Linked DNA regions of Homo sapiens. The protein of the gene in region 4 purifies or fractionates together with the protein of the main gene of each other region. This does not show direct contact. Each region holds a gene or a part of one and is shown on either strand. Other genes may lie near its edges. The genes, in order: CACNA2D2, SUSD1, PPM1A and RNASE13.

Evidence for each region.
Region 1: the proteins of RNASE13 (region 4) and CACNA2D2 purify together in Homo sapiens (affinity purification with mass spectrometry; 3 studies listed by BioGRID and IntAct, with this or other methods). This does not show direct contact.
Region 2: the proteins of RNASE13 (region 4) and SUSD1 purify together in Homo sapiens (affinity purification with mass spectrometry; 3 studies listed by BioGRID and IntAct, with this or other methods). This does not show direct contact.
Region 3: the proteins of RNASE13 (region 4) and PPM1A purify together in Homo sapiens (affinity purification with mass spectrometry; 3 studies listed by BioGRID and IntAct, with this or other methods). This does not show direct contact.

What each region holds. Positions count from the first base shown.
Region 1 is NC_000003.12:50,500,301-50,508,160, forward strand, and holds the start of CACNA2D2 (voltage-dependent calcium channel subunit alpha-2/delta-2 isoform b precursor), read right to left. Parts: upstream 3,335-7,860; 5' UTR 3,124-3,334; coding exon 2,918-3,123; intron 1-2,917. UniProt on the Homo sapiens protein: The alpha-2/delta subunit of voltage-dependent calcium channels regulates calcium current density and activation/inactivation kinetics of the calcium channel.
Region 2 is NC_000009.12:112,094,958-112,102,339, forward strand, and holds part of SUSD1 (sushi domain-containing protein 1 isoform 2 precursor), read right to left. Parts: intron 7,329-7,382; coding exon 7,219-7,328; intron 3,706-7,218; coding exon 3,513-3,705; intron 1-3,512.
Region 3 is NC_000014.9:60,286,869-60,294,250, reverse strand, and holds part of PPM1A (protein phosphatase 1A), read right to left. Parts: exon of another isoform or gene 5,696-7,382; intron 4,446-5,695; coding exon 4,337-4,445; intron 2,855-4,336; coding exon 2,797-2,854; intron 1,799-2,796; coding exon 1,769-1,798; 3' UTR 1-1,768. UniProt on the Homo sapiens protein: Enzyme with a broad specificity. Negatively regulates TGF-beta signaling through dephosphorylating SMAD2 and SMAD3, resulting in their dissociation from SMAD4, nuclear export of the SMADs and termination of the TGF-beta-mediated signaling.
Region 4 is NC_000014.9:21,032,095-21,039,155, forward strand, and holds RNASE13 (probable inactive ribonuclease-like protein 13 precursor), read right to left. Parts: upstream 2,714-7,061; 5' UTR 2,562-2,713; intron 2,203-2,561; 5' UTR 2,195-2,202; coding exon 1,724-2,194; 3' UTR 724-1,723; downstream 1-723. UniProt on the Homo sapiens protein: Does not exhibit any ribonuclease activity.

The DNA.
Region 1 (7,860 bases), on a different chromosome or scaffold from region 4:
AGCTGGGCTAAGAGGGTGCAGTCAGGTGGGCCAGCTCAGCCGGGTGCTCCACCCAGCACTCAGCCAGGACTCCACAGAGGAGGGGACAGAGAAACCTGGGGGCACTGGAGAACAGGGCACAGAGGCCCAGCAGAGAGGACAAAAGAGGCGGGCAGGGAAGGATAGGTACAGCTCGATGAAAGACCTGAAGAAGGGGGACAGGGGAAGAGGGAGGGAAAGACACAAGGGGAGGCAAAGCAGTGAGGGCTGCCCCTCAGCCGGCGGTGGTGGCCTGATGCTGGGGAGGGCATAACTGGAAAAAGGAGGCAGGTGAAAGGTGTGCTCGGACTCAGGTCCCCCACACCCAGCCGGACAAGTGCACATACATGTGCATACATGTGTGCAAACATGTAGCCTCCTCCTTGTTTGAAACTCTGATCCAGGTCCAGGTAAGGTGAGACAGCCCAACCCCCCCACCCCCCGCCCAAAAAAAAACCCTGAAGCCCTGTCCTCCCTTCAGCAGTAACCCCTCTGCCCTTCTCAATCCAGCAGCAGCCTTGGTCCATTTTGCCTGGTGGGCAGAGAGCCATGCTGCCAGAGCGATTGCAGAAATCATAGCTAGCAGACCCCAAACCCACACTTGCTTAAAATCCAGCAGCTTGTGAAGCTGGGCCCCTGTGCACTGGCAGACACTAATGAGAAAATGACTTGCTCATCAGGGGCCTTCCCCACTGAGGGGTTGTCACTCCAGTGCCATGAAGCTGGGTTCCACTCTCCTCCTTGGAAATCCACCTGTATCAAAGTGTCATCCCAGCCTGGCCACACTGACCCAGCAGAAGGTTCTGGGAGGTCACCCATCCCTGAGCAGCCCCACAGAACCTTCTGGCCCGAACAACAGCCTAAACCTTTCTTACCAGTTCAACAAAAGCACCAATTCCACTGGCCATGGTCATGTGTGGGCCCCTTCCTCCCTCCAAGGATCAATGTGCATCCTCGTCTGCGGGACCAGGGCAGCTGAAGGGCACTGGCTGTCACAGCAAACCCTCTGTGTTGTTGTACCATTAGTCACCTCCCCCTGGACCCTCAGAGCGGCACAGCCCCCACCCCACCCCCACCCTCATTCTCTAATTACAGTTTGCAAGACATGTCCCAAACCCCCAAATTAGCTCCAACTATATCGACAACAGCGTCCAGCTGGAAGTGTGTCGCTGCCGTCACACCCGCCTCGCCATCTTCTGGCTGGGGACAGAGGGATAGGTGCCTACTCTGGTCAGGTTCTCACATCGGCCTTCTAGAGGAGACTCGTGCAGGCCCAGAAGCCATCTGACCAACTGCACGTTGCAGGGAAAGGGAGTGAGGTCGGGAGAGGTGGAAAGAGACATCCACTTAAACCTTCACTCAAGGAGCTATGAAACGGCTAAGAAAAAAATAATTGTGGCTTGGCTCGTGCTTGGCTTTGAGGAAGAAAGAACAACAAAAAAATAATGCTTTTGCTTTTTTTAAGCACTATGATTGAAGTCCATTTCCATCACGGCAAATGAAAGACAATAACGCATCCACCAGCCCTGAACTTCCATTCGATTCTTTTCTCCCTGGGCAACCCCCAAACACACATGTGAAAAATCCAGACGGTTGACAGAGGACACGTCCGTGCGGCACTTGTAATTTGCCAACTGATCACCTGCCTGAGCACAGCCAGGCTGTGCAATGAGAGAGACGACAAGACGGAGAGAGAGACCCAGAGAGGCGGTTTTCCTGAGTTTGTTTTTCCCTCATCTTAGAGAGCCTACGAACTGGAGTCGGCAGGTTTTGTGGCAGAACCAGGGGCTCTTACCCTTGGGCAGAGCTGGTTTAAATGACGCAGAGCCAGCCTCTCCCTTTCCCCGAGGCCAGACCCTTCCCCTTGGCCACCAGCAGCCCGACGACTCATGCCCCAGTCTCCAGGCCAGGACACTGGTGAAGGAGTCCAGGGACAGGTGGCTCCTCAGACCCGGAGACAGATAACAGAAGCAAGGTGGTCACCGTGCCCCAAAGGGGGTCTGGGCACTGACATAGGGCTGAAGCACAGTGTCAGGAAACTGATACGTCCTAAAGGCCACATGCACTGAACATCCACTCCCAGCCCCAGACACATCTGGCTAAGCTCACCCGTAGGAGGCAGCCCGAGTTTGCTGGCTCTTGGGGAGGAGGAGAAGGCTCAGAAGGACCAAAAAACCTGCGGAGGCTGGCAGAGCCAGGAGAAGCTATTACTCTGTTGGCAGCAGCAGCAGGCGCAGGCAGGGGTCCTTCCCACCATTCACCTTCTGCCCGGACCCCAACGCCTTCACCTCCCAACTGGGCTCTCCAGGGTACTCTCTCCTCAGGTGGAGGGGGGCCAAGAACAGGGGACACTGCCTCTGTGGCACTGGCCACAGCAAGAAGGTGCTCGCATCATCAGCATACAGCTCCCCACTAAAGGAAAAGGCCCTTGAAGGCAGGTGTGGAGATGTCCCTCACCTCTGGCTGTAAAGCGCCGGATTCCCACCAGGGAGGGAACGTGGGGCAGATGCGCGGCTCCAACTCCGCCGGACAGGGGTCGCTGGCCGCCCCTCTCACCCAACCCGGGTTTCCCTCTCACCGGGTCAGCGGCAGGGGAATCAGCTGACAAGCTCGGACCGCCCCCCCCCAACTCCTCCCGGGGCTTGAAGATCTTGCCTTGCCTCATTCGGGGGATTTGGGGGAAGCAGGGGCACCGCGGGGAAGTTTCGCGACGCAGCCAGAGCGCCGGGACCGCGGCTGCCAGCCTTCGGGGCTTGGGGCCGTCGCCCCCGGGCGCAGCGGGCAGCCGGACCCAGCGCCTCTGCCCTGGCGCGGAGCGCAGGGAAGGAGTAGCGCGGACCGGGGGCAGAGCGGGGCGCAAGGCTCGGCCGGGGTCTCGCGGCCGGCCGAGGCCACTTACGTGTGCTGCTGGGGGAAGCTGTAGGCAGAGGCGCCGGGGGCGGCGAGCAGCGGTAGAAGCGGCAGCAGCAGCCACAGCGGGCGCGGGGGCCCGGACGTCGGGCGCCGGGTGCCGGGGCCAGGGTGGGGGCCGCAGCCGGGCCAGGGGCGCGCAGTCCGCGCTGGGCCGGGCCGAGAGGCGCCGCAGGTCCGAGCCGGCACCGCCATGTTTCCATTCAAGATGCGGCGCCGCGGGGAGGGGGGGCAGTGGCGGCGGCGGCGGCGGCGGCGGGGTTGGGGGGGCGCGGGCGGCGGGCGGTAACTCGGCCTCTCCTCCGCCGCCGCCTTCTCCGCGAGGGGCCTCCGGGGCTGCACGGGCCGCAGCGCCTCTGCGGGCTGCGCGCTGCTATCTCCCTGCAGCGCTGGCTCCAAGCGCTCTGAGCGCCCGGCCCGGGACCTGCGCTCAAATAGCAGCCGCCGCCAACCTGCCGGCACCGCCCTCTTCTCTCCCTCCCTCCCTCTCTCTTCCCGGGCTGGCCCGCCCCCGCGCGCCCCCGCCGCGGCCACGCGCCCACCCGTGCCCGCGCGCCTCTCGTCCCCGCGCAGCCCGAATCCTGCCCTACTGGCTCGGGCGTCCTGCGCCCCAGCTGCTACCCGAGCGCCCCGGGTGCGCCCCCGCCCCCACACCTCAGACCCTGCCGCTCCTCCCCACCCCACCCGCGGGAAGAGTCCCGGGCCCCGCGGCCCAAGGCAGGAGCATATGTGACCCTTTTGGGGGCTCGACCTTCAACAGGCTTAAGGCCTAGAGTCACAGGTTTAATGGTGGAGTGACAGCTTCAGCGGAGACCAGAAAAGGAGGCATGCTGAACTTACAGCCCCCGTGGCTCTAGCTATCTTTAAGATTTCTCTCTGTCGGGGGCTTGCACGCCCGGCTGCTGGCAGAAAGGGCCTGGACCTCCTGGTTCCCTAAGCGGAAACCTGGGCACGGCTGTACGGTTGTGGGGGGCTGGGGACGGCAGGATGCAGCCCTCTGCAGCCACTCGCTTCGCTTCCCTGGGCTGAACAGGCACTGTGTGCAGGCCTGTCCCAAGCCCCAGTTCCCGGAGTTTGCACAGCCTCTGTTTAGATTCTTCCAGAGCCAGGAAGCTCATCTCTGCACAACCCAGTCCTTTCTGTCCTGGAGGCCCCTGGCTCTTCCCTGCTGTGGGCAGAAGACTGGGGCTGGTGTCAACCTTGACTCCACAGCTTGTGGCCCTTTCAGAGCCTCAGTGTCCTCGCTTGTGAATGCTTGTGTGGGTGCCCACTCCCATTTCCAGGATGAAGTGAGAATGGGGAGAATCTCTTGGTAAACTGAAGCATTCACAATGAGGGGAGACCATCCCTAGGATTCTACTGAAGTTACCCTGGAACCCAGCTCTGCCTCTGGTGCAGATAGGATGAGAGAATGCTCCCCACCAACTTGACACAGGGCAGGACCCCCTCAGCAATAACTGCCCACAGACCTGGCCTATCACGAGGAATGAGGGATAGTAACCAGCTGGGCAGGATGGTTCGGAAATGTCCAGATGCCCCACCTCATGGTATCAGTGGCTCTCCTATCACCCACTCACAAGTCAGCCCAAGGAGGGCTTGCAGTTGAAAGGGAATAGTAGCCCCTGGACTGAAAAGGGTAGGGGTAGGGGCTGGAAATAGGGCCTAGGACAGCCTTCCCTTGCTGCCTAGTCCTGCCTTGGCTTCTCCAATCCCAGCAAACCAGGGCTTGACAGGGAACAGTTTCCTTCATTTCTTGAAGTGTCCTCCTCCCTTGACCTGAATGAGCCTTCAGGGGCCAGACAGGTTTGCCAGCAGATCCCAAACCATGAGACCCCAAAAAAAGTATCAGAGGAAGGCAACGCAGGGGCCAGGGGCCTGGTGGACAGGTGGGACCTGATGGACTATGGGAGACGATAGTCCAGCTCTTTGGGGGGACAAGCAGGGTCCTCACTGAGCCAGTTGCCCCCCTGCCACCTCTGGACACAATGGGAGGGCAGGGGGGCAGGGGTCCTGCTCAGGAGTCGACAAGCGTGAGCTCAACAGCTGCCTTCCCAGCCCTGCCTGCTGAGACCTGTTCCCAGCATCTCTGTCTTCCTCATGCCCAAGGTAGGGCTGGCCTGTGATATCCTCTCTTACCTGTTTGCTGGACATATAATACCTGTGCCCATGGCCCCAGGGGACCATCATAAAGGACATCATTCCTCTTGGGTGCCCTGTCGGGGGTGGGCGCCTTCCCAAGGCAGACTCTGCAGTGGCCTGAGAAATGTGAGGGCCAGCCTCCCTGCCCTCCAACACCAGGGTAGCAACGCTATCCCCAAAGTGCCCAGGCCGTCAGGCACATGAAGTCAGTCTAGGTACAGTGGGTGGGTTTTGGCAGTTGGGTATTTCAGTTCTAGCCTCCACAGATGTGCATCTAATTGAGGCTGCTGGCACCAAGGGAAAGGCGGGAGATTTTGGTTGACAGGCCGTTAAAGGAAGACAAATAAGGAGGGGGGGGGTAATTAAGAGTAAACAAGTGGTAAGTGTTTACGAATTATAACTTTTGAGGCTTACAACATCCTCAGCCCTCTTGGTGGCTGGCTACAGCCACACGTTAAGATCTTGGGAGAAAAATTTGAGCCTTCCCAAGGAATAGGGGGACTTCCATGGCAGGCACATTGGTAAATGTGGGGCTGCCCACCTGGCCCAAGTTGCCTGTGCTGGAAGACGTAGGGTGGCAGGGGCAGGTGAAGCTACCCTGACAGGGGGCCTGGTAGGTGCCAGTTCTGCATGGGAGGTCAGCTCAGCAGGTCAGAAGAGACTGATAGAGCCATAGGGAGAAACTACTATGTGCCAAGCAGGCCATGGGCTCAGTTGTGCCACTCGAGGCCCGTCCCAAGCCCCAGCTCCCGGGGTTTGCACAGCCTCTATTTAGATTCTTCCAGAGCCAGGAAGGTCATCTCTGCACACCCTAGTCCTTTCTGTCCTGGAGGCCCCTGGCTCTTCCCTGCTGTGGGGAGAATACTGGGGCTGGTGTCAACCTTGACTCCACAGCTTGTGGCCCTTTCAGAGGAAGCCCATCAGGAACATCCAGGACGCCTGTGGTGGCAAGATTTTCACCCTAGCCTGCCCCGCGCCCAGTCTCACCTTTTACCAACAGGCTGGACAGCTCCTTATTCAGAGAAAACTCCTGCCTCGGGCTTTACTCCTGCAGTTCCTCCTGCCTGGAACACCCTCTTTTACCTCTACCATTTGAACTCAAGATATTTATGAGCCCATTAATACCACTTATACCAGGAAGCCTTCCTGGGGTACTACCACCCCCAACTGGATGGGCCTCCTCCTCTTGGTCCTGTCCCTCCTGCTTCCTGCCCCGGCCAGTAGTATGCTGTGGCCTCTGCCTTGGGTTCAGAAACACACCTGCACTCTGGCCTCTTTTTTTTGAGACAGTGTCTCACTCTGTCGCCAGGCTGAAGTGCAATGGCATGATCTCGGCTCACTGCAACCTCCAACTCCCTGGTTCAAGTGATTCTCCTGCCTCAGCCTCCTCAGTAACTGGGATTACAGGCACGTGCCACCGCACCCAGCTAATTTTTGTATTTTCAGTAGAGACGGGGTTTCGCCATCTTGGCCAAGATGGTCTTGAACTCCTGACTTCATGATCCGCCCGCCTTGGCCTCCCAAAGTGCTGGGATTACAGGCATGAGCCACCACGCCCAGCCCATTCTGGACTCTTGTCGAGCGGAGCCCTGAGGCTCCCTAGTCCTTGTCACCCCTTCCAAGCCTCATGCAGTGCTTAGCCATGGGAGGGCACAGGAAGTATTAACATATAGAGTCATTTGGGGCCAGGCATGGTGGCTCATGCCTGTAATCCCTAGCATTATGGGAAGCCGAGGTGGGTGGATCACCTGAGGTCAGGAGTTCAAGAGCAGCCTGGCCAACATAACGAAACTCCATCTCTACCAAAAATACAAAAAAAAAAAAAAAAAATTAGCCAGCTGTGGTGGCCGGCGCCTGTAGTCCCAGCTGCTCAGGAGGCTGAGGCATGAGAATCGCTTGAACTTGGGAGATGGAGGTTACCATGAGCCGAGATCGCACCATTGCACTCCAGCCTGGGTGACAGAGCAAGACTTTGTCTCAAAACAAACAAACAAAAACAAAGAATCATTTGATGGCATGTCAAGGGAGCCCAGGGATGTGCCCAGGAAGGGTGGTCTGGCCTGGGCATGAGGTGTGTCAGCTTTGACATCAGACATCACAGGTTGTGTAAGCAAGTGATTTTGCCTCTGCAAGCCCATTTCTTCATCCATATAGTGGGAGACACCCCCATGTGGCAGGGATGGTCTGAAGACCCAAAGCATCTAACACCCTGAGGGAAGACTTGGTACTTCAGCAAGGGCTTAGCGAAGGGGAGACAACAGACTCAGCCATCCCCAAGAAGGGCAGGCCGTGTATGCAGGCAGACAGGGAAATATTCCTGGAAAAGGGGGAGGGATTTCAGCTCAGTCTTGCAAGTTGAATAGGTTGGGATGGGCACATTAGGGAGAGGAGGAGGGGACATTCTTTTGGGTGAGCATGACTTGAGCCAACATTTTCCCTTCTGAGCCCTGTTTACCCAGCTCTGCCTCCACCTGGGTCCGTTGAGCTGGCCCCAGCCTTGGCCAGTGTTCTGCTGTCCCTGCCTCATCCAGCCCACTCTAAGGTACCTATTCTCTGCCTGCTTTGTGCTGGACTTGTTGGTCCCCAAGGGCCCCCAGCTGGGATTCATTCCACGTATGGGGGACTACCAGCACTTGCACCTGCCAGTGGCTGCCATGGCTCGCTCATCAGTTCCTTGGGGATACCCAGGGATGCAATGTTCCCCAAAATGCCCCTGTCTGAGCATGGTACAGATGCTCAGTGGCCTCCAGATGCAATCAGACAGGACCCTACCTCTGGACACGTCAATAATTT
Region 2 (7,382 bases), on a different chromosome or scaffold from region 4:
ACCGGCTATAAGGACATCTGCCTGGGAAATAGAGCTGTATTAAACAAGGTCCAGGGAGAATGAAAATTGATAAAGCCCAGGCCTGGGTTTAGGCCGAACTGAATAGAAAGAAATGCCTCCTAGTGAAAATGAAAGTGGGAAGAAGGTATTTTAACACTGGATGTTTATGGCAGGTCGAGAGCTCTGTGACATCATTCTTTCTCTACAGAGACCTCGGAGGCAGATTCCAAAGTAATATGTGAGGAGAACAAAAATCTAAGTCTGAAAACAAAAAGCAAATATAGAGAAGGAAAAGTACTAAGACCTAGCAAAAGGTATGAGTCCTACCTGGCAATAAAGACGGAACAGAAACAACTTAAATGGAAGGGTAAAGGCTTAGAGCTGAGCAGGACCTGCTAAGTAAGAACGTTCTCAGAGGGACCTTGAACATTGCAGGCTTATCTCTCTGATACAGAAAAGGAAGCGGGAGCAAGAAGTGTTTCAGTTTCCATCAAAGAAGCACCGACCATTTAAGTCTTGGAAATTCAATTCCAAGAAGGTAGGGCTTGGGCGAAATGCCACTAGCCCAGGGGGTTTCCTGGACCTCATCAGACCAGTGAAAGTTCAGGTTCTGGAAACCCAACAGCAGCTCACAGATCAGCTGAGGGTAATTCCCCATGGGAGACAAAAGGGAAAATCTCCTAACCAGGAAGTAGGACTCACAGGCAGACATTCAATAATAGGAGCCTGTGGAGTCCAGAACTAAAACAATTTGGGGGATCTTTCTGGGTTTAGAGAAATTCAGAGAAAAGAGTCAGAAATGGAGACAGGGAAGGAAGCATGCAAGATGATGCATTTCACTTGAAGAGTTTCCTAAGATAAATGTGGGGTGTCCTGCCCAGAAAGAAGGGAGACTCTTTCACTAAACAGATAAAGATCTTCAGCAATGGTGAAGCTTGGGTAGAAATAGGGCTCAAGGGAGCAACGAAAATGGAAAGGTTTTAATCTTTGGAACGGGCATCAAGAAAGACCTAGAGCCACCACTGCAAATGTCTAAAATTTTCAAGGAGAGTACAGTGTCAAAATGAATCCAACTACCCTGACGAGAAGACATTTCCCAATTTAAGTTTAAATTGACACGTGGTAGACTCCAGACTGCTTGGTAACCTACAGAGGCTGAACTATGGCATGCTACATTATACTTACTACTAGTAATTTAGGGAGGCAAAGGAGAAGGTAACAACAGGCTTCTTTCTGAACCTGACACCATGGGCCTCTCATTTATTATACTCATGCTAGAGTTTAGACCTCATCTCTCACCACTGTCCCCAGCTCTCTGCTCCAGCCATACTGGTTTCCATGACATTCCTAGAATATGCCAAGTATGTGCCTGCCTCAAAACCTCAGCATTTGCCAGTCTCCTATACACCAAAGGAGTAGCATCTATTACAAAACAAGATTCCTAGGTTTCAACAGCTAGAACACACTCTCCACTCAGCAGGACACTCTGGCCAAGACTCAGCAGAAAAGATGTAGGATAGAAAAAACTGGGGACTTCATGCCTTTACATTTTAGTTTATTTTACAAGGAGAGGTGGATTTATTTATTCTTATTTCTTTATCTGAGGAGATCTTGCTCTATTGCCCAGGCTGAAGTGCAGTGGCGCAATCTCGGCTCCCTGCAGCCTCAACCTCCTAGACTCAAGAGATTCTCCCACCTCAGCCTCCCAAGTAGCTGGGACCACAGGCTTATGCCACCACACCCAGCTAATTTTTGTATTGTTTATAGAGACAGAGTTTCACTATGTTGCCCAGGCTGGTCTCAAACTCCTGAGCTCAAGCAATCCACCCGCCTTGGCCTCCCATAGTGCTGGAATTAGACGTGAGCTACTGCACCCAGCTAGATTTTATTTATAGATTTTTATTTCTCTAAGAATTTAATAATTGGAGGGAATTCATATTCAATTTGCGAGCATTACTATGCAGCTGAAAATGTGTTGGGGGGTAGGTTTATGATGTCATGAGGTGCTCCTTGTGCAAACTCTGCTGATACAGACAGGACAAGGTGCCAGGCTCAATCTGATAAAAAAAATAGGATAAAAACTGAAGCCAGACACGGTGGCTCACACTTGTAATCCCAGCACTTTGGGAGGCTGAATTGGAAGACCTCACTTGAGGTCAGGAGTTCGAGAACAGCCTGGCCAACATGGTGAAACCCTGTATCTACTAAAAATACAAAAATTAGCTGGGCATGGTGGTATGCGCCTGTAGTCCCAGCTACTCAAGAGGCTGAGGCAGGAGGATCACTTGAGCCCAGGAGGTGGAGGTTACAGTGAGCCAAGATGGCACCTGGCCCTCCAGCCTGGGTGACAGAGCGAGACTCCATCTCAAAAAAAAAAAATTAATTTTCAGCCTCAGGTGCTACGTGGCTCTCATGAGTGTCTAACACATTTCAGAGTCTTTTTTTTTTTTTTTTTTTTGAGATGGAGTTTGGCTCTTGTTGCCCAAGCTAGAGTGCAATGGCGCAATCTCGGCTCACTGCAACCTCTGCCTCCCGGGTTCAGTGATTCTCTTGCCTCAGCCTCCCGAGTAGCTGGGATTACAGGCACACACCACCATGCCCAGCTAATTTTTTGTATTTTTGGTAGAATCAGGGTTTCATCATGTTAGCCAGGCTAGTCTCGAACTCCTGACCTCAGGTGATCTGCCAGCCTCGGCCTCCCAAAGTGCTGGGATTACAGTCGTGAGCCACCGCACCCGGCCCAGAGTCTTCTAAATGCAAAGGCCAAACTGCCCACCCTGACCCACAAAGAGCAGAGGTGAATATCACAGAGCGGCTTCAGGGAGGTAGCAGCAGGACCTACCCTCTTCTGCTGCTTTCCTTCAAAGGGGTAGCCTCTTCTGGTTGCCCGTAAATTTGTCTGATAAACCCACAGGATTAAAGAACAAAAGAAATAGTAGTGATGGCTGCACCACAGCCATCCCACTAGGGGGAGCTGTGGAGTTAATACAGCTGGCACCTATGTGGCTTCCTCAAAAGACTGCAAGGGAAGAATTTCTAAGGAGCCTGACCTTAATCAGGCCTCTGTTCTCTATGTCAAGTTAATTTGCTTATGCGTGGCCTAGTCCTGAGGCTGTATTGCCTGCCAGTGCCTGACACTGTGGGACCCACGTTTCTGGTCTCCTGGAAGTTCGTTCTACTTGCCGATAATGAATACCCTTAGGGTTCAGTTGTCTTAAATTTGGGGTGAGAGATAAAATGCTTTATGGAATTCTCAACTTAGGACTCCCAGGGAGCTCTGAATAAATCAGTCTATCCTTGGTCTGTGCCCTCTATGAGCCAGTACCCTTCAGGGAAGGGGATAAGTGGTAAGATTCAGGCATCCTGAACCCCAGACGCAGCTAACAAAGTTTGTTAGAACTGGAACCCCTGTCTCTTGACTCCCAAACTAGCACTCTTATGCCCGCCCACACTGCTCAATTCACATAGGTAATTTGTCCTGAGGCACAAAAAAGAAAGACGTCTACACCCACCTGCTGGGGGAGTTGCTATTGTTATTTGCACTGAGTGCCGCTTAGGAGATCTCAGCAGGGTCACATTCACCGTATAATCAGTCGTAGGGTACAGATCCAAACACACTACAGGCACTTGTTCCCTCGTTGTGAAGTTAAACGATGTTGCATGAGAAAAGTTAGCCAGATACCACCTCTGACCCAGAACGGTAAACTGTCATGAGATTAAAAGAAAGTGTTACATTAGATTTTCCATTGACTAACAGGTGCCTAGACTATTAGCAAAATGGAGTTAAAACAAGAAAGTTCCTTTTATTTATCCTTGCCCACTTAGAATTACTTTTAAGACAATAGCAAGCTAACCTGAGGAAGGACTTGACAAAGCTACCTTACCTGTCCTCACAATCAGGTATAGGACCAAGCTTAATATGCATAACTACATCTCAGATGAAGAAAATATTAGTCTATTCCAAAATAATCCCTTGATTATAACGCAAGTGAAAGAGATTACATTGGAGCTAATGGGCAAAATTATTTTTTTTCCTCCTTCCCTTCTGAATACTTCGTTCTCTCTCTCTCTCTCTCTCTCTCTCTCTCTCTCTCTCTCTGTCTCTTTTCTGAGACAGGGTCTTGTTCTGTCACCCAGGCTGGAGTGCAGTGGCACAATCTTAGTTCACAGCAATCTCAAACTCCTGGACTGAAGTGATCCTCAGCCTCCCGAGTAGTTGGAACTACAGGCATGCACCACCACACCTGGGTAATTATTTTTACAATTAATTTGTAAAGACAGGATCTTACTTTGTTGCCCAGGCTGGTCTCAAACTCTTGGCCTCAAGCCCACCTCAGCCTCCCAAAGTGCTGGGATTACAAGTGTGAGCCATTGCACCCAACCAAAATTCTTTTAGTTTCTTTTCATTGTAAGAAATCCATGGACAAGCCTCATAGAACAGAGTACTTAAACTAGGTGGGTTCCTTAACCCTACCCATGGAAGAAAAAAAAAACAAAAACATATGGGGACCACCCCAGATTATGCATTCAAAGCAAATGCCATGGTACTTCACTGGACCCTTCCTATTAGACCTCTGGTAAAAGGGCTTTTGATCCATGGAGTCATATCACACACTGTCACCTAACCATCCTCTACGCACTGCCAGCTCCAGCAGGGAATTATAGGGAAAAAACTTTCGTGAAGGTCCTATAAGTAATATGATCAGCCCTTGATCAGTTAGGGTGCATTAGCTGGTGGAGACATATGCTCGGTGTTGCCACTGATGCTAGCACCATTGTCTATACCACCCTCAATCCCTCCTTATTCCCATCAATCACTAACTCTTCTCTTATCAATTTTGACAGTCATCCAAGACCCTGACAGGTGGTTCATAAGGATTCTTCTCTCTCAAACTCTTTGAATTCTCTTGGATAACTTAAAGGTCCTTACAGATAAACCATCAAATGTTGGCCTCAGAGTTCTTTGAGCTCAATGCTATGAACTTCCTTCACTCCACTTTGGCCACCCATATCCATGGCCACAACCTAGACTATGCTATCGTCAGAGCTGCTCCTCCACGGTCTGGCAGTCCCCTATTCTTCTGGACCACTTACTAGTGAGGCATAATGTGTTCATGCGTGTTTAGGCAATACGTCTATTTTCTTTAGCAAACCGCTTTTAAATATTGACTTTTTTCCAGTCAATTTAAAAGTGTTTCACATGTCACACAAATTAACCTTTATCTAATTTTTTTGTTGTTGTTTTTTTAGACGGAGTCTTGCTCTGTCGCCCAGGCTGGAGTACAGTGGTGCGATCTTGGCTCACTGCAAGCTCCACCTCCCAGGTTTACACCATTCTCCTGCCTCAGCCTCCCAAGTAGCTGGGACTACAGGTGCCCGCCACCACGCCTGGCTAATTTTTTGTATTTTTAGTAGAGATGGGGTTTCACCGTGTTAGCCAGGATGGTCTCGATCTCCTGACCTCGTGATCCACCCGCCTTGGCCTCCCAGAGTGCTGGGATTACAGGCGTGAGCCACCACGCCTGGCCAATTCCTACTTACTTTCTATGACTCAGTATAACAGTCTTTGCTTCTGGTTAAAAAAATTGTACCTGGCCTGGCAAGTAGCTCACACCTGTAATCCCAGCACTTTGGGAAGCCAAGGCAGCTGGATCACCTGAGGTCAGGTGTTTGAGACCAGCCTGGCCAACATGGCAAAACCCCATCTTTACCAAAAATACAAAAATTAGCTGGGCATGGTGGGGCATGCCTGGAATCCCAGCTACTAGGGAGGCTGAGGCAGGAGAATTGCTTGAACCTGGGAGAGGGAGGCTGCAGTGAGCCAAGATCATGCCACTGTACTCCAGCCTGGACGACAGAGCAAGACTCCATCTCAAAAAAAACAAAAAAATTGTACCTGGACACACACACACACACACACACACACACACACAAATAAAATCTCTATTTTTATACTTATTTACTTTTATTATTCCATTATTAATTTACTTTTTGTCAAAGCACTCATTATACCATATTGTAGTTGCCTATTTACCTATATATTTCTATCAGTTTGAATTGGAAACTTCCAAGTCCTAATATGTGATATACTTCTGGTAAATAGAATAAATTAATTAATTTTGGCCTGGGCGCGGTGGCTCACACCTGTAATCCCAGCACCTAGGGAAGCTGAGGCGGGTGGATCACTTGAGGTCAGGAGTTTGAGACCAGCCTAGCCAATATGGTGACACGACATCTCTAATAAAAATACAAAAATCAGCAGGGCATAGTGGTGCACACCTATAATCTCAGCTACTTGGGAGGCTGAGGCACGAGAGTCGCTTGAATTTGGAAGGTGGAGGTCGCAGTGAGCCAAGATCGCCTCCCTGCACTCCAACCTGGGTAACAGAGCAAGACTCGGTCTCAAAAAAGAAAAAAAAATTTTTTTAATGTAATACTTACTGAGTTTGCTCTCTACCAGATGACTTGCTAGGCACTAAAAATGACACAAAATAAATCTCAGTTCCTGCCTGAATTTACTTACAATTTTACTGATGATGTTTAAGAAAAAATCAAGTTAAATGAGGGTCAATAGCCATCCAAAGAGTTCCTTAAAATTCCATGCCCAGCTGGGCGTGGTGGCTCACGCCTGTAATCCTAGCACTTTGGGAGGCCGAGGAGGGCAGATCATCTGAGGCTGGGAGTTTGAGACCAGCCTGACCAACATGGAGAAACCCCATCTCTACTAAAAATACAAAATTAGCTGGGCGTGGTGGCTCATGCCTGCAATCCCAGCTACTCAGGAAGGCTGACGCAAGAGAATCGCTTGAACCCCGGAGGCAGAGATTGCAGTGAGCCGAGATCATGCCACTGCACTCCAGCCTGGGCAACAAGAGCGAAACTCAGTCTCAAAAAATAAAAATAAAAAATAAAAATAAATTCCATGCCCAAATGTGAATCTGATAGCAAAATAAGCTGTATTGTTTAATGCATTAAAATAAAATATAAGCTTGAAATGCCAGGCACAGAAAATGATAGCAAGTCACCAAATATAGTATCTTTCTTCAAGTTAGTACCTCATTTACACCCATCTCACATCTTACATCCATCTCTAGAAACAACAATCACAAACTGTCTAGAAGTTCATTCATTTTTAAATACTTTGGATACTTACTTGGAGATCGCCCAAATTTTTAAATGACACAATTCTTTAATGGAAAGCATAAGAGATCTCCTTACTTGGTACATGTGTTCTGATCCAACTTTCCTAGAACGCCTGTTCAATTTCAAACAAGTTTCATTAAATATTGAAATATTGAAACTTCCATCATCTTCTAAGAGATCAACTTCTAAAAGACAAGAGAGAGAGTTATAGACAGCTTGCACCATCTTAGCAAAATGCA
Region 3 (7,382 bases), about 39 Mb from region 4:
GGGATAATGAAAAGATTTTGCTGGTATTTAACTACTTAAATCTGAGACATTTCACATTACTTTCCCCACTACTCCCCTAACTTTACATTAATTTTAAGGCTATATATACAAATATGTATATTTCCAAGTTAGGGAAAAAACAAATATAACAAAATGGACTATACTGGTTTTTATACACAAAATTTTGATTTTGTATTCAATGTTGTATTTTAGTCTTACATTTCAACAGTTTTCTAGTGGGAATCTGCCTACTGAATGATTACATGGTGATAAATACAATATTCAACCTAAAGAGACAAAAATACAGAAGGGCACGGAACAGTAATCTTTTCAATGCGACAGATTTTAAAACTTACTTTCACATGCTTAATCAGAGGAATTTAAGCCTAAATTAAATTAGGTTATTTTTATATCTACAATTCCTTAAGCTTTGAAAGTTATTTGTAAAGGCCAACAGCTAAATATTATCAACATGCTATATTTCAAATCACAAATACATCTTAACCACTTGGATTCTAAAGACATGGGCCAATTAAAAATCACAGGCAAACACACACTCACAAACACACACACACACACCCCTACCATAGAGTGTTAGATTGTCAAACTTTGACAATAAATATTTTAATTAAACAGTAGGCAAATCCAAGCTGATACACATCTTAATGAAAAATAAGCAGCCTGAAAGAAACCTATTTAAAAAATAGATTAAGGTACAACCAAGAATTAAATCTTTTAGTCTTTCTAATGGAAGGAAAGTTTCATCTATGCCTTGAGTGACAGTGTTGTCCAATTAAAAGAGACTAACATCTTTCCCTATGAGAAACGTCTCATTACAACGGCACAGTGTTTTAAAAGGCCAGGGTAAAAGAGGAATTACACATACATGATTAAGTTTCTTGTTTGTTAAATCAAGCTTTATTGATAAAATGGAATTCAGAATATCTTACTAGGAACAGCAGCAGGCCCAGCCAATCATGATAGCAAAAATGTGGCAGTTTCCTACTATATGTAGGAAGCTGCTGCTTATCAATTAGTAATTAAATGTAAGGACTTGAAAAGAGGTGCAAAGAAACAAGGCATTTAGCCCCAAGATTGAGATTCTTATGAATACACTGTATTATTACCTGCAATACTCATGGAAACAACGAAGGAACATCCTGAAAGACAGTTAAATGAAGGGACTGGCTTTATCAACAATGCCAACTCCCCTACCAAGAACATTTAAGATAGTTTTCAATAACTCCTTGGATGTTCAGCTTTGTAAGATTTTGAGGTTATTTTCCATAATCATCTGCACATTTGAGCGTGTAGCTGACATGGCTGCTGCTCTCCCTGTTCCAACCCCAAGTCCAAACACAACATGACTTGAAAGGGCTATATATCTGTTGCATCACACAATAAGCCAAACATTTCTTGTAACTTTGATAGTGATTTAAAGCAGTTCATAATTAAATATGAGCATTTTGTACAAGGACAATTACACTTTACAAAAAAACAAAATCATACAACAAAAATTGCTGGAGTCTGATTTACAACACGAATTATGGTTTGAAATCACGCTTACATAAGTCTCAAATTTACAAAAAAAAAAAAAAAAATCAGTTCTGGGCTAGCTGTTGTACTGCTGAAGTTCTCTGATGTAATCATTCTCACCCATGTCATATCCCCTTCCTTAAAGTTGAGGATGGATGTTAAAAGTTTCAACAAAGTTGAGCTGTACTCTCCTTTGGAGGTGAAGGTAAACTCCATGGCTAGATGAGCAGTTTTACCACATATCATCTGTTGATGTAGAGTCCTTTGTAAAAGGAAGCAAAATAAGGAACAACGTTAAAATTTAGCGGTGCCAAAATACACCATACTTTCTGGATAATGGAGAAAGATAATGTTCTGTAAAGATGACTTTTAGAATATAAATGTTTTTTAAAGTATATAAGTATATATGTGTACATATGAAATAGCAATGTTTAATCTGTTCAAAGAATTGTTAATCCTTTGTTTTGTTTTGGAAAATATTTGAAATGCGGTTTTATGATGAGGCTGTCCAAATGTATTACTCAATCAATAAATCTACTAAAAAGAATTTTTTAATGAAATCCAATACAGTTTTAGAATACCACTTTTATAAACCTTTAATGCATCAGAAAAGATTAAGAACTCAATATGTGAGGAAGCTTCATAATGCAATACATAAAATATTTCAGAGCTGTGCCCACATGATCTTTAAGTTATCACTTTTCTATAAACATCATACAACAGAATTGCAACAGAACACTTAACTGGAGAGTATGGCATTCTAATGTCTATTTATGCAAACAATTCTCTAATATTTAAGTGAAGTATATACTTCAGGATTCCTGACAAAGGTATTTCCAACCATAAGAACTATTTAGTTGAGACAGACATTCCGAAGTTCTGCTGCAGCTGCTTACAAAACTCAGAATAAGACAATATTCTGAGTAGAGATAGTCCCAACTTCGGGAAAAAAAAAAAAAAAAAACCATGTAGTGGAGGCAAACCTTCTGAAGTTGATTGTTTGTAAAGACTTAAAAAATCTAGAATAATTCAAAAGGACTTTCTTCTTTTTTGAGAGAGGTGGCCACTCACCATGATTATGTCCTCAATCACTAGAACTGTGGTGCAGGCAGAGATCAGAGCAAGCAGAGTTCAGAGCAATCAATCAGGGGTGTGTGTAAGAGAATGGGTACAGTGAACAGCTCTGCAAAAACAGGTAGGAAGGATATGCATTTAGAGTGGAGGGGAAGGGAAAGCAGAGGGAGCTAAAATGCTACTTACAGTGTCGTCATTTTTGTAAGGATTCAGTCTATTGTAAACGGCTTCAATAACATTCCTCCTAAGTGTAAAAAAATGCAGAAAATTAATTCTTCAGAAAGCAAAACATTGCTTAGTAACTCATAGCCAGGTGTTTATTAAAATTTCTAAGATAATCTTATACTCAGATATTATTTTAGTTCTATTTCTTGCTGTCAATAGTGAGCCTCACTTTTAAGATATTTGGGCTCCTATGTTAAAGCAGAGGTGAGTCTACTCTAAAATGTGTTATAACACTCTACCAACCCAGTTAATAGAAGGCTAAAAATTACAGATTAAAAAAAAAGTCTATATAGTCTACTTCCATTTGAATTGGTTTAAATGGTTATGAGTCATCAATGGCAATGCCATTCTTAAGATATAATACTAACATAAGCTAGTTGAGTTGCATCGTAGTTTTGAAGTCTCAGATTATACTTTATATTTAAGCTTCTACTTTTCTTAATGCCCTTTTCAAAAGTTCTATTAAAACTGAAATGTCAAATAAGACATTTCCATGACAAGTCTAGGAATTAGTTTTGAGTAACACTTTATTAAAAATCTGTAGTATATTTATAAGTTATAGTCTCCCTACTTCCAAAATTGACTTGAAGCAATTTTATAGATCGTTTCATAGAAAGTCATATGGAAAAAAAAAGTTTCCAAAAAATAAAAGCTTCAAACAGGAGCTTTTACAATCACTATTTAGTGATTACAAAGAACATGGTCACACTTGCAAAACACAGTAGAGAATCGAGAAAATTAGTCAATAATATATCTTCACTGTAAGTACAAGAAGTCTTCACTTGTAGTTTTAGCACATTTACTCTATATCCAAATTCAAGCTAAAGGTATTTGCAAGTTTTATGTTTGTAAGTCAATTATATGGATATTTGAGGTAAAAATGTTTTAACCCTTGGAATTGCTTGAATTTTCCACTTTATTATGTAAAGGTGTAAGCTTAATATTTAACACAAAGTAGTCCAATTCTATGAACTAAAGTGGAAAGGGAAAAGACAAGAAATATATTCTATCTTCTTCCCTGACACCTAAAACCAACTAACCAGCAATCAACAACCAAAAATACTGGGAAAATCAGGCATAGAAACATGGTCCATATGAGGAAGGGGAATTTTCAGGGTGTTAAGTTACTCAGGGATTGACCAAATCAAATTATACTACTACTAACAACGACACTTAGAATTTTGTAAATTTTTATGTAGTGCTATGTAATTTAGTTTAAAAAGTTCTTTCAGTATATTATCTCGTTTATGCTCTATGAGGAAATCAATGCCAACCAAGCTTCCAATAAAGACAACCCTCACTGCAATTAGTTACAATGATACTGATACCTATGTCTAAACAAACTCTAGATATTCTAATACTAAAAAAAAATTGAAATCACAGGTTAAAACACAGATAACTGCATCAGTTCAGAAATTAGGCAAACAAACATTTTATCAATGAATACCTAACATTTTCATACACTGACATAAAGCATAAGAGTGTACAGAATGTAACTTACTTGCTTGCCAATTCACCCCCTGGTGGGAGGCTGGGGATGTTCTCACTCGCTAATGTGCGCATCACATGGACTAAGTCGGGGACGCCTTCCCCCTGCTTCTTTATGATTTCTGGGAATCAGAAGTACTTTTTTTGTAAGTGTTATCCAAATTTAATTGAAAAGAAAACCGAAACAAAGATAACCTAGCTTTTTAAAGATGGCATTTACCACATCTGAGATTTTTCTAATCTGGTATCATTTAAAAAAAAAAAAAATCAGGTTGACCTTTGAAGATTTATGACAAAAAATGCACAAAATGACATATAAGATTAACTTCAAATCAAAATTAAAATGTGAAAAAATATTTCATGTTAAATCAGCATATTATATAATCAAGGATATGTGTGCACAAGTGAGAATACCCTTTCTTAAGATGTCAACTAGTTTCTTCTTACATCACTCCTCTCTTTAGACTGGAAACATGTTTCCTGAACTTTGCCCTATATAATACACTGCGTGGAATTTTAAAAAATAAACAATTTCAAGATTTGAAAATAACAACCCTTAATTATAGGGGAATTTATAGATTATATACTAACTCAATTATTTTTATGTATATATTTATATTTGCAAAATGATACTTAAATAGCATGCACAGATTATGTACTTGAACATCACTGTCTCAGTTTAATTCTTCTCTAAAGTACCTTTAAACAATATACTGTATAGATATATAATACCATTTCCTTCACTGATTACTTCAACAAAGCCTTGAATAGAAAAGGTCTAAATTTCCTTATAAAATGTTTAAAAAGAGAACCATTTGATAAACCATACAACTGCATTTAAAATAATTTTAAAATATCCAGTTATTAAAAGGGCACAGCAATATGATCTGCAGTGTTGTCATGCAGATGCATACTATTATTCACATCACAAAATATAAAAAATTATGAACAAAGAACCTTACAAAGAACTCTACAACTATTCCTCTAAGTATAAAAAGTCTTCACTTGCAGTTTTAGCACACATACTCCACATGCAAATTCAAGTCAAAAGTATTTGTAAGTTATATGGTCAAGTTTTGTTCAGTTTGTTTTTCAATGTTTATGGTAAGAAATGGTATTTTATTTGTCATTAGTGGGGCAAGAAATCATCATTCTGCTTCTCAATTTGTAAATACCTTTGAAAATAACAATGTGTATAAAGATTCGTCCTTTGATCAGGCCTCAAAATTTTTAAAGACATGGCTACCCATAATATTTCTTTAAATGGTTCAAACTGTCCTTTTAGAATAAAGGCCAAATTTTTACCATCTATTATTTTTTGCCTTAAAAAAAAAAACAGTCTTAAATCTGAACAAAAAGCAAGGATCTCAGATTTGGTTTGCCAAGTTCCTTTATTGTGTAATCTTTAACATCTAGTATATTTGTTCTACATGGTTCTAATGCTGGAAATCTGCTGTACAAAAATAAAGGGATTTGATGTTTACCTAAACTGCACAATTTCACAATCTAAAACTAATACACTTAACATACAGTCTCCGCTAAGCCAATACAATTATTTGGATAGATAACTAGATACAATAGAAATAAACACTGATGATAAATTGAATCAATAGTTTCAGGTCTAAAAAACATTACCTTGAATCATCTATATTTGATGTATCTTACATCTCTTTTGTTAAAATATAAATTAGGATATTTTAACTGTGAAGAAAATTACAGGAAAACAAATTCTTGTAAAAAAATAATGTAAAGCTTTAAAAACAGTTAATATCTCCTGTTCCACGTGGGACAACGCATTTAAACTACCTGACCATTCATACTATACTAGCCTTGCTTCTGTCTGCTTTCAAAAAAGAAAAATAAATGAATTTTAAGAAATATTCCTTTAATTTCTGTTGACCTATACGTTTTACTTAGAATTGTAAAAAGACTGAACGCTTTTTCTAAAGAATATTTATATATAGAAGATCCATGTTTCACATACATATACACAAACACATTCTGCTCCTTTCCACTCCCCTCCACCAAGTTTCAGGGATTCTATCAGTCATCTCCAAATTAGCAACTTTAAAGCTAAGGTAGTCAGTAGCAAAGATTTTGAAAATATATACACAAAAGTATAATTTTAAATTGGCTTAGAAGGACCACAAAATTAATAGTAGTATAAATTATGAGCTGAATCTTTTCACACCCCCAGAGAGTCAAGTATTTAGAAGGGAACAAATAAGAGAAAAGGAGAGCTGGAAGGCCTTTGTCCTTTTCTATGGTGTGGACAGAGAAGCCAAAAATGTTCCAAGCAAATAAAATGAGGTTTAGTAGGTCACAGCAATCTAGTGAAGGCATGTATTTAAAGAAAGAAGAGAGAGAGAAAAGAAAAAGGCATTCAGGTGCCTGCTTTGGAAGCTGAAGGCAGTATTTTTCACTGAGGACACACAACTTTTACAATACAAACAGTTACATTCTATGTTTTAAAATAGCAGCAATTTTAATGTAATATTTATTCTCTAGTTGCAGTCTCATCAAATCTGAGTAAAAAATACCATATTTAATTTATGACAATCTCCAATTGAATGGTACAAGTATAATAACACTTTAACATATCAAAAATATTGAGTATCAATGTAAACTCTGTCCAGGTGGCAACTCTTGCTTGATAATAAGAAATATAAAACTTATTATTGTAACAAAATAACGTAAAGTGAATATTTCATAATTCCATCTAAAACTTAAAGTGTACACACTAAAGAGAAAAGTAGCAATTCATTTCTAAAATTGGATCCCATTTCATAGTAAAAATATTAAAATACTTATTACTTCTTTAAACCAATAAGAAAACATGTCTGCCCAAGTTAAAGTGCCAATACATTAAATATCAACTTATCCCTATACATATTATTCTTATGAATTTAAATTTTCCCATGAATCAATAGTTTGAACCAATGATTGTAGCATTCTAAATATTTTAAAATTGTACTATACCTATAAATAACTTATATTGAATGATTAATTTAAAATATAAAAATTCCAAGACCCTTGGTAACAGTAAGGAGACAAATTCG
Region 4 (7,061 bases):
GCCTGCTAGCCCCCTGACCCTGCATGTTTAACACCAGGGAGCTTGGAAAACAATAAACATCTGTGTGTGCAGCAGCCAAAATCTCTGTCTGTGAGGGACAGATGAGCCTACTAGTGTAGAGAGAGGGAGAAGAGGCAGCACAGGAGGGTGGGTTCTCCACCACACACCCTTCGCTCTGCTTAGCCTTATGCCTACCAGCCATCAGTTAGCATTCCTCCTCAACAGCTGCTTCCAAGAACAGGATGGAAGAATATATTTGGAGTAAAGAGATGAACCAGATGTGGAGGTAAAAGTATCTACTACTTGTGTTCACACATTACTGATATCCACCTCTCCACCCCCACCCCTCAAAAGGGTGTAGCAATTCCTCACGTGATGGACTATGACTATATCACATATTAGATCCTTCCCTGTCCCTCCACCTTCCTCATCTGTTGCAATTCAGGTTTTTTGGGTGGAGGAGTAGAAGCCAGCTAAGGTTGCCTGACTTCTATTACAAATTTGTTCCAGAGCTGGGGTAAGGGGAGAGTCTATTTTCAACACCCAGCCCAGAACTAAGTTTTACCCCACATCACCTCCATCATGGGGCACATGGGACAGAAGAGCTTACTGACTGCTAAGGGTAGCTCAGGAAGATGGCCAGATGAGGCAGGCTGCCAGGATTCCAAGAGCAGGAGTTCTGGTGCACTGAAGAAAAAGCAATTAAATCACAACAGAGTCAGATGTGTGTTATTAACTTTTTATTTTGAATTGATTATGGGTTGACAGGAAGTTACAAAAAATGGTACAGAGGGGGCTCGTGTGCCCTTCACCCAGTTTCCCCCAATGGTTACATCTTACATACTCAGATGTGGTTTTAGAAATTTATGTTCGATTAGAGCCGGGCCTGCCTCATTCGCTGCCTGGTCAGGGGCAGACTCTGGAGTCTGGGGGATTTGGGAGGAGCTTCTGGAAGAGAAGGGAAGCAGGAACCTCTGGGGAATGGGTGAGAGAAGATACCTTGAAATGCCAGTGAGCCAAGGTAAGAAGACTGGAAGAAAAAGAGGTTGGAAAAAGGAAGGCAGGGTGACTACGGTTGTTGGGAGTGTGGGGGAGACAGTCCTAGGCTCCATGGTAAGAGGAAGCAGGAGAGGACAGTTATATGAAGGGAGAAACCATGATTTCACAGAGAGAAGCAGGCTGGAAACTGGGGGTTGTGGGGAAGTGAGGCTAACATGAGTCTGAGGGCCTCAGGGAGGTTCCTATAGCTAGCCATATCCCCTGAGTAGGTGGGTGAGTGGAGGGAATTATAAGGGAACTGGGGGAGGCTGACATGAGAAGGCTGGTGGGGATGGGGAGGTGAGACTCGGAGCTGGTGCCTGTTGCCATGGTGTGAGCTGAGGCCCTGGGCCTCCATCCAGGACTTAGGATCTGGCCCAGTGGGTGGACAGTCACTGCCAACTGGACACAGTCAACTTCTTGGGTGGGTTTTACTGTCTCTGGGAGAGGAAGGATGATGAGGAGGTGGGGGCGAAGAGGGGGTAAACAAGCTGGAAAGAACCTAGAAGATAGCACCACTTTGCATGGTGATCAAAGCCCTGGACATTTTCGCACCCACCTGGTCTCTTGGGAGGGGACCCTGCCTGCCTCGTAAGTCAGGAAGGAAGTCTTGTTACAGGGATCAGAGTGTTGGAAATGGAGACAGCTGGCCTGTGGTGGTAGAGGTTGGGGAGTGGCTCAGGAATTAAATTCCCGAATAGAGACCAGCGATACCTATTGGATCAGCTTCATACTTGCGGGAGCAGAGTAGGTAGAGCTTCTGGTTGGTTAGGGTGCTATTGTAGTAGCAGCTAGTGGGTGGCTGTTGGTGGCTCAGGGAGCAGACCGTGATGGGGAGGGAATCCTGGGTGAGTGTGCAGTATTCATTGTAATTCTCACAGAAGCTGTCACTATACTTGCAGAACTTCTGGATGGCCTTCCAAGGGGCATGTATCACATAATGGATCTTTGGGCAATCTGAATTTTGCATCTTGCCTCGCATATAGGACATCAGACCATTACAATAGCCCCGGAAACCCTTTGGGTAGTTAACCCTGGGATAGTCAATGCTTAAGGTATAGAAGTTCCTGCTGCCAATCTGCATCTTGATGTCCATGACCAGAGTTGGCCCCAGAACAAGCTGGAGGAAAAGGAGCCGGGTCACAGCTGGTGCCATTCCTCCTGCTGGTAGAGTTAAGGTGGTTGGGGGCAGCAGTGGGCCTGAAGTGGCTGTCTGCCACATCCCAGAGCCTCCAGCATTCCCAACCCAACAGTACTTTAGAGATCATCTCACCCATAACCAAGTTCTCATGACCCAGAAAGAGGAGATGCTTGCCCAAGGCCACCCAGACAACCAGCCACCTTCAGCCAGCCCTGCTCCCCTGGTCCACCACAGAATCTCAGCCTCTGCAGAGTCCGTGAGCTACATTTGCAGAATAAGAGCTCTAACTGGTCCTTGGGTGAGAGACTCTTCCCAAGAGTCCTTGGGCCCCTGGCACTCCTGCTAGTAAAAAATGCAGAGAAGAAAGAAGGAGCAGGCTGACCTGACAATTCTCTGGCAGCTGGGAGGAAGGACAGGAGCTGAAGATAGCTGGGTAGGGACGTGTATTCTTCTTGCCAAGGCCAAGACAGTCAAGAGATGAGGAGAGGCTAGAAAGGTTTCTAGGTAAAAATCAGTCTGGGAGGAGGGAATGTCCCCGAGTTTGATGAGCCCCTGTGCTAAGAGGGTTGGATGGGTGGGAGGAAAGAGGCATTACTATCTGGTCTCCTCCTCTACAGTGTCATTGGAACACTTACTTCCAATCTCCTTGCCAAAAGTTCCTAAGTGCCTGGGCTTTCTTTGATGTTTTCTCTGTTCCATAGCCTGTGCTCTCGTGGCAAGGTGAGTAGGAAAGCACTGTTATGTTTCTGAGGAACAAAGTGCTTCTTATTCCTGACCCTCAGAGAACAGAGCATTCGCCACTTTGTCATCCCACTCACGGGAGCCCAGGAGGGCATGTACTCAGGGGCCTCCCACCAAAGTGCTGGGCTGAGAATCAAAGACCTCCATGTGGACTCCCCACGGTCCCTATCAGCCTTACTCCTGTCACACCCACAGCCTTCACCTGTGACCTCAGGCCCTGTCAGAGTTTGAGCACTACTGGAAATCTCTGCATGCTGACTCTGAAGCCTCAAACTTGGCAGTTTGGATTTGAAAGCATAACCTGAACATGAAAAGCTGTGGATGCCAGAGCCTGGCATGATCCGTTTCGTACTGTTGGTTGATCTCTGAGTGGTTTGCCATGCTGGGGAAAGGGCCACGCTCCTATCTTTTTCATCAACATCTTCCCTTTCATCAGAATCAAAGAGCCAGCTCCCTGGAAACTGCTAGCTCTTGCCCTTGACTTCCACAGGTCACTCAGCCTTGTTAGTCTGCAAGGTGTCTTCCAGATTTGGGGCCTCCTCTTAGGAGAGCCTTTTTACCTTTGCTGGGCAGCAGAAAAGGGGAGTCAGAACACAGAAAGCTGAGTGCTCCAACACCCTCAGTATAGCTCAGGAGGAGGGAGTAAGGCCGCAGAGAGAAAGATTGGTGTTCCTCATGTAGAGCCCCCTAAACTGGCACTTTCTGACAGCACAAACCACAGTCCAAAATGGAATCCATCCTCCCCATAACTTGTTTCTCTTCCTGTTTTGTCAACTCAGTTTCCCTGGTTACCTATGCAAGAAACCTGAAAGTGATCCTAGACCCCTCCACCTCCCCAATCCCAGCTACGGGGAGGCGGTCCTGCATGGTGGTTAAGATCAAGGCTTTTGAGTGAAACAGACCAGGAATTGAATCCTGCCTCTGCAGCTTACAAACTGCACACCATCTATCTGTTTACGAAACCACTGAAAGCTTCCTTGTTTCATCTGTTCATGAGGATAGTATTTTTTACCTCACGGCAGTATGAGGATCCATTAAGATGTATATCAAGAGTTTTTAGACCAGTGCCCGGCACATGGTGAGTCCTCAGTATGAGCCTGAGTCCATCAGTCACACAGCCCTGACAATCTTAAACTTTTCCCAAGCCCATCTCTTCCATTCTTATTTCTTCCTCAGTGGATGCTCTCGTCTCGCCTGGACAGCACACACACTCCAACTCCAGTAAGACTCAACTCAAATATATCTCTTATACAACTTCAAGAGAAAAAGTGTGATCCCTTCTTTCGTCTAAAAGTCTGCAATAGCTTGTTTCTCATAGGGTAGGGGTGCCCAGTCTTTTGGCTTCCCTGGGCCACATTGGAAGAAGAATTGTCTTGGGCCGCACATAAAATACACTATCACTAACGATAGCTGATGAGCTTAAAACATGCAAAAAAATTCATAATGTTTTAAGAAAGTTTACGAATTTGTGTTGGGCTGCATTCAAAGCCATCCTGGGCCACATGTGACCCGCGGGCCATGGGTTGGACAAGCTTGTCGTAGGGTATAGTCCAAACTACATCTCACAGGACATAAGACTTCCCATGATCTTGCACCTGCCCATGTGTACAACTGCATCTGCATCCCTGCCTGCTTCCCACCTTGTCCCCCACCTCCTCTATGCCCTATCTGCTGCTGTCTCCTCTACCTGGAACCCTGCTGCTGCACCGTTCCTCGCCCCCATCTATTCCATGGTGCTAGCTCATAGAAAGACTCAACCCAGAGGTCCCACTTAGAAAGCCTCTGCTGGGAAGACCTCGCCAAGGAAGTGGGCACCGTCAAGCAAGTGAGGATAGAGCCCACATGGGCAGGTGGCTCATCTGTATTCTTCAGGCTGCTCAACAAGACAACACTGAGCGGGTGCCAATGCAGGGTGTCGCCTGAGCCTGGCTGACTCAGGCCTTTGCTTTGAGGAAGCCAACCACATTGTGGTCCCTGCCTTGAATCATGCCACCTCTTCCCTGGTCCCTCAAGGCTGCAGCTTCCCTGAGAATAGAAAGGGACTTTTTATACCTTTTGTTCTTCCTCTTCCTTCATTCCCCAGCCACCCATCACCGCTCTTCGCTCCCCCCACCCAACACCACTCACTTCTGCCGCACAATTACAGAAACTGAACAGCACATTATAGAGGAAAGCATTCAGGACTTAAATGATTTAATGATGATGAGCCTTCGGCTTCCCAACTGCAATCCTGGTGATCTGTTCCCTAAAATCCTGTCCTAGAGGTGCTGATGCATAAGATTACTTCATCCATTCTGACAACCTCATCATGGTGTCATGTGCTCCGTAAGCCTGAGATTAGTGGGATTGTTACCCCATTACACCGGGTTTTACATACACAAGCATTTCCCTAGGGATGAAAAACTAAGTTCTAGAGTGACAGTGGCTTGCTCAAGGTCATATGTCTAATTCAGTAGTTCCAGGGACAATTGGATAATGTCTGGAGACATTTTTGGTTGTCACAACCAGGAGTTGCTACTGGCCTGTGGCCAGGGATATTGCTGAACATCCCACATTTCACAGGACAGCTCCCATAACAAAGAATTATCCAGACCAAGATGTAAATAACACTGAGGTTGTGAAGCCCTGGTCTAAATAATTAGCTAATCAAATTTCTTAACCAAAGCAGACTTACTTGTATCTTATGTATTAAAAAAATGATAAACATCTGGGACATCAAAATATTTTTGTTAAACAAATGTTGATTGTAATGGTGCTGATTCTACCAGAAAAATGTGTATTGATAGTTCACCATTGAAACAATAACTGAGTTGTTTTTCCTGTAAAGATGACCCTCTGCATGTAATCATTTACACATTCTCTCCCTTCCCTCCCCAATGGTAAGCATTTATAGAACAACTGGCTAGGGTGGCAGGTGCAAGGGTGACTCCCTATGACTGAGGAGAACCCCAAAATTTTGCTCTGAGTGGGCTCACCATGATCTCATTGGCATTATCTTTTGCCCTGTCCAATTCAAGTTGCTCAAACAATATACTGTGTCATGGACAGTTCCTGGGCTGTCCTTGAACCTGAAGGATTGCCTCAGCCATCTCAACCTTCTTCTCATAGCATCACCTCAAACCCAGGGCTGAAGTCTAGAAGCCGCATTGTCACTTCCTCATCTGTTAACCATCTCTGTGGGCTGGAGGCAATCCCACCTCAGACTGGGATCATTCAGGAGCAGACGGAATGCCTTCTAAAAGTTGAATCAGTTAGGGTCACTTATATGCAAGGCATTATGCTATATACTGTGAAATGTGCAAAAGAAATGTAACGGGTGGTCCTCATCTTGTGGGAATTGACAGTCTAAGAGAAAAATAATACATACACATGAAGAAATAACCAGTGATTCAAGGCAGAAAATTATACATTCTGAAGACAGTAAATGCTGTAGGAATTTAGAGGTGAGAAAGATGTCTCTGAATTGGGAGGGTCAGAGAAAGTTTTCCTGAAGGGTCACCCTGGCTTGGAAATGGATCTCATGGTGAAGTTAGAAGTTCAGTGGAGATAAAGAGGATTATGAAAGACATGCTTGAAAAATGGGGGGAAACCGGTCTGGCTGGGGTTGAGGCACTCAGTGGGAGAAAAATCAGAGATAAAGTTAGAAAGACAGGTTTGCCCGATTGTGACAGACCCTGATTACCAGGCTAAGGAAATGATACTTTGCTCTGTAGATAAATGGGGAGCTGGGAGGGCTTGTGAGACAAGGCCCCAGTGAACCCCCAAATCAGTTTCCTCTTTCCTCCATCCTGGCTTGTCTAAACGCATTGGTCTGGGAGCCAAGGATTCCAAATTTCTGTCAGTGCTGCCTCCTCCTGACCCACAGCTGTTCCAGGAAAGGTCATGGGAATTCAAGGACCTGAAGAAAGTCCCACATCTGACCTCAACTTGCTGTATGTTTCACTTTCTCAGTCTACAAAAATGAGCCCATTACCTTTATTTATCAAAGGACCAACAAAATTAGGATAACAGAACTTGGATCTGCTTTTGCTTGGAAGGGAACTCTCACGGGCTTTCCATTGGTATCCAGAGGCTGTGTGGAACTCCGGAAGGCAGAGAGGCTTGGCTCTGAAGGGTAGGCACCAATCCAGGCCCGGCCCTC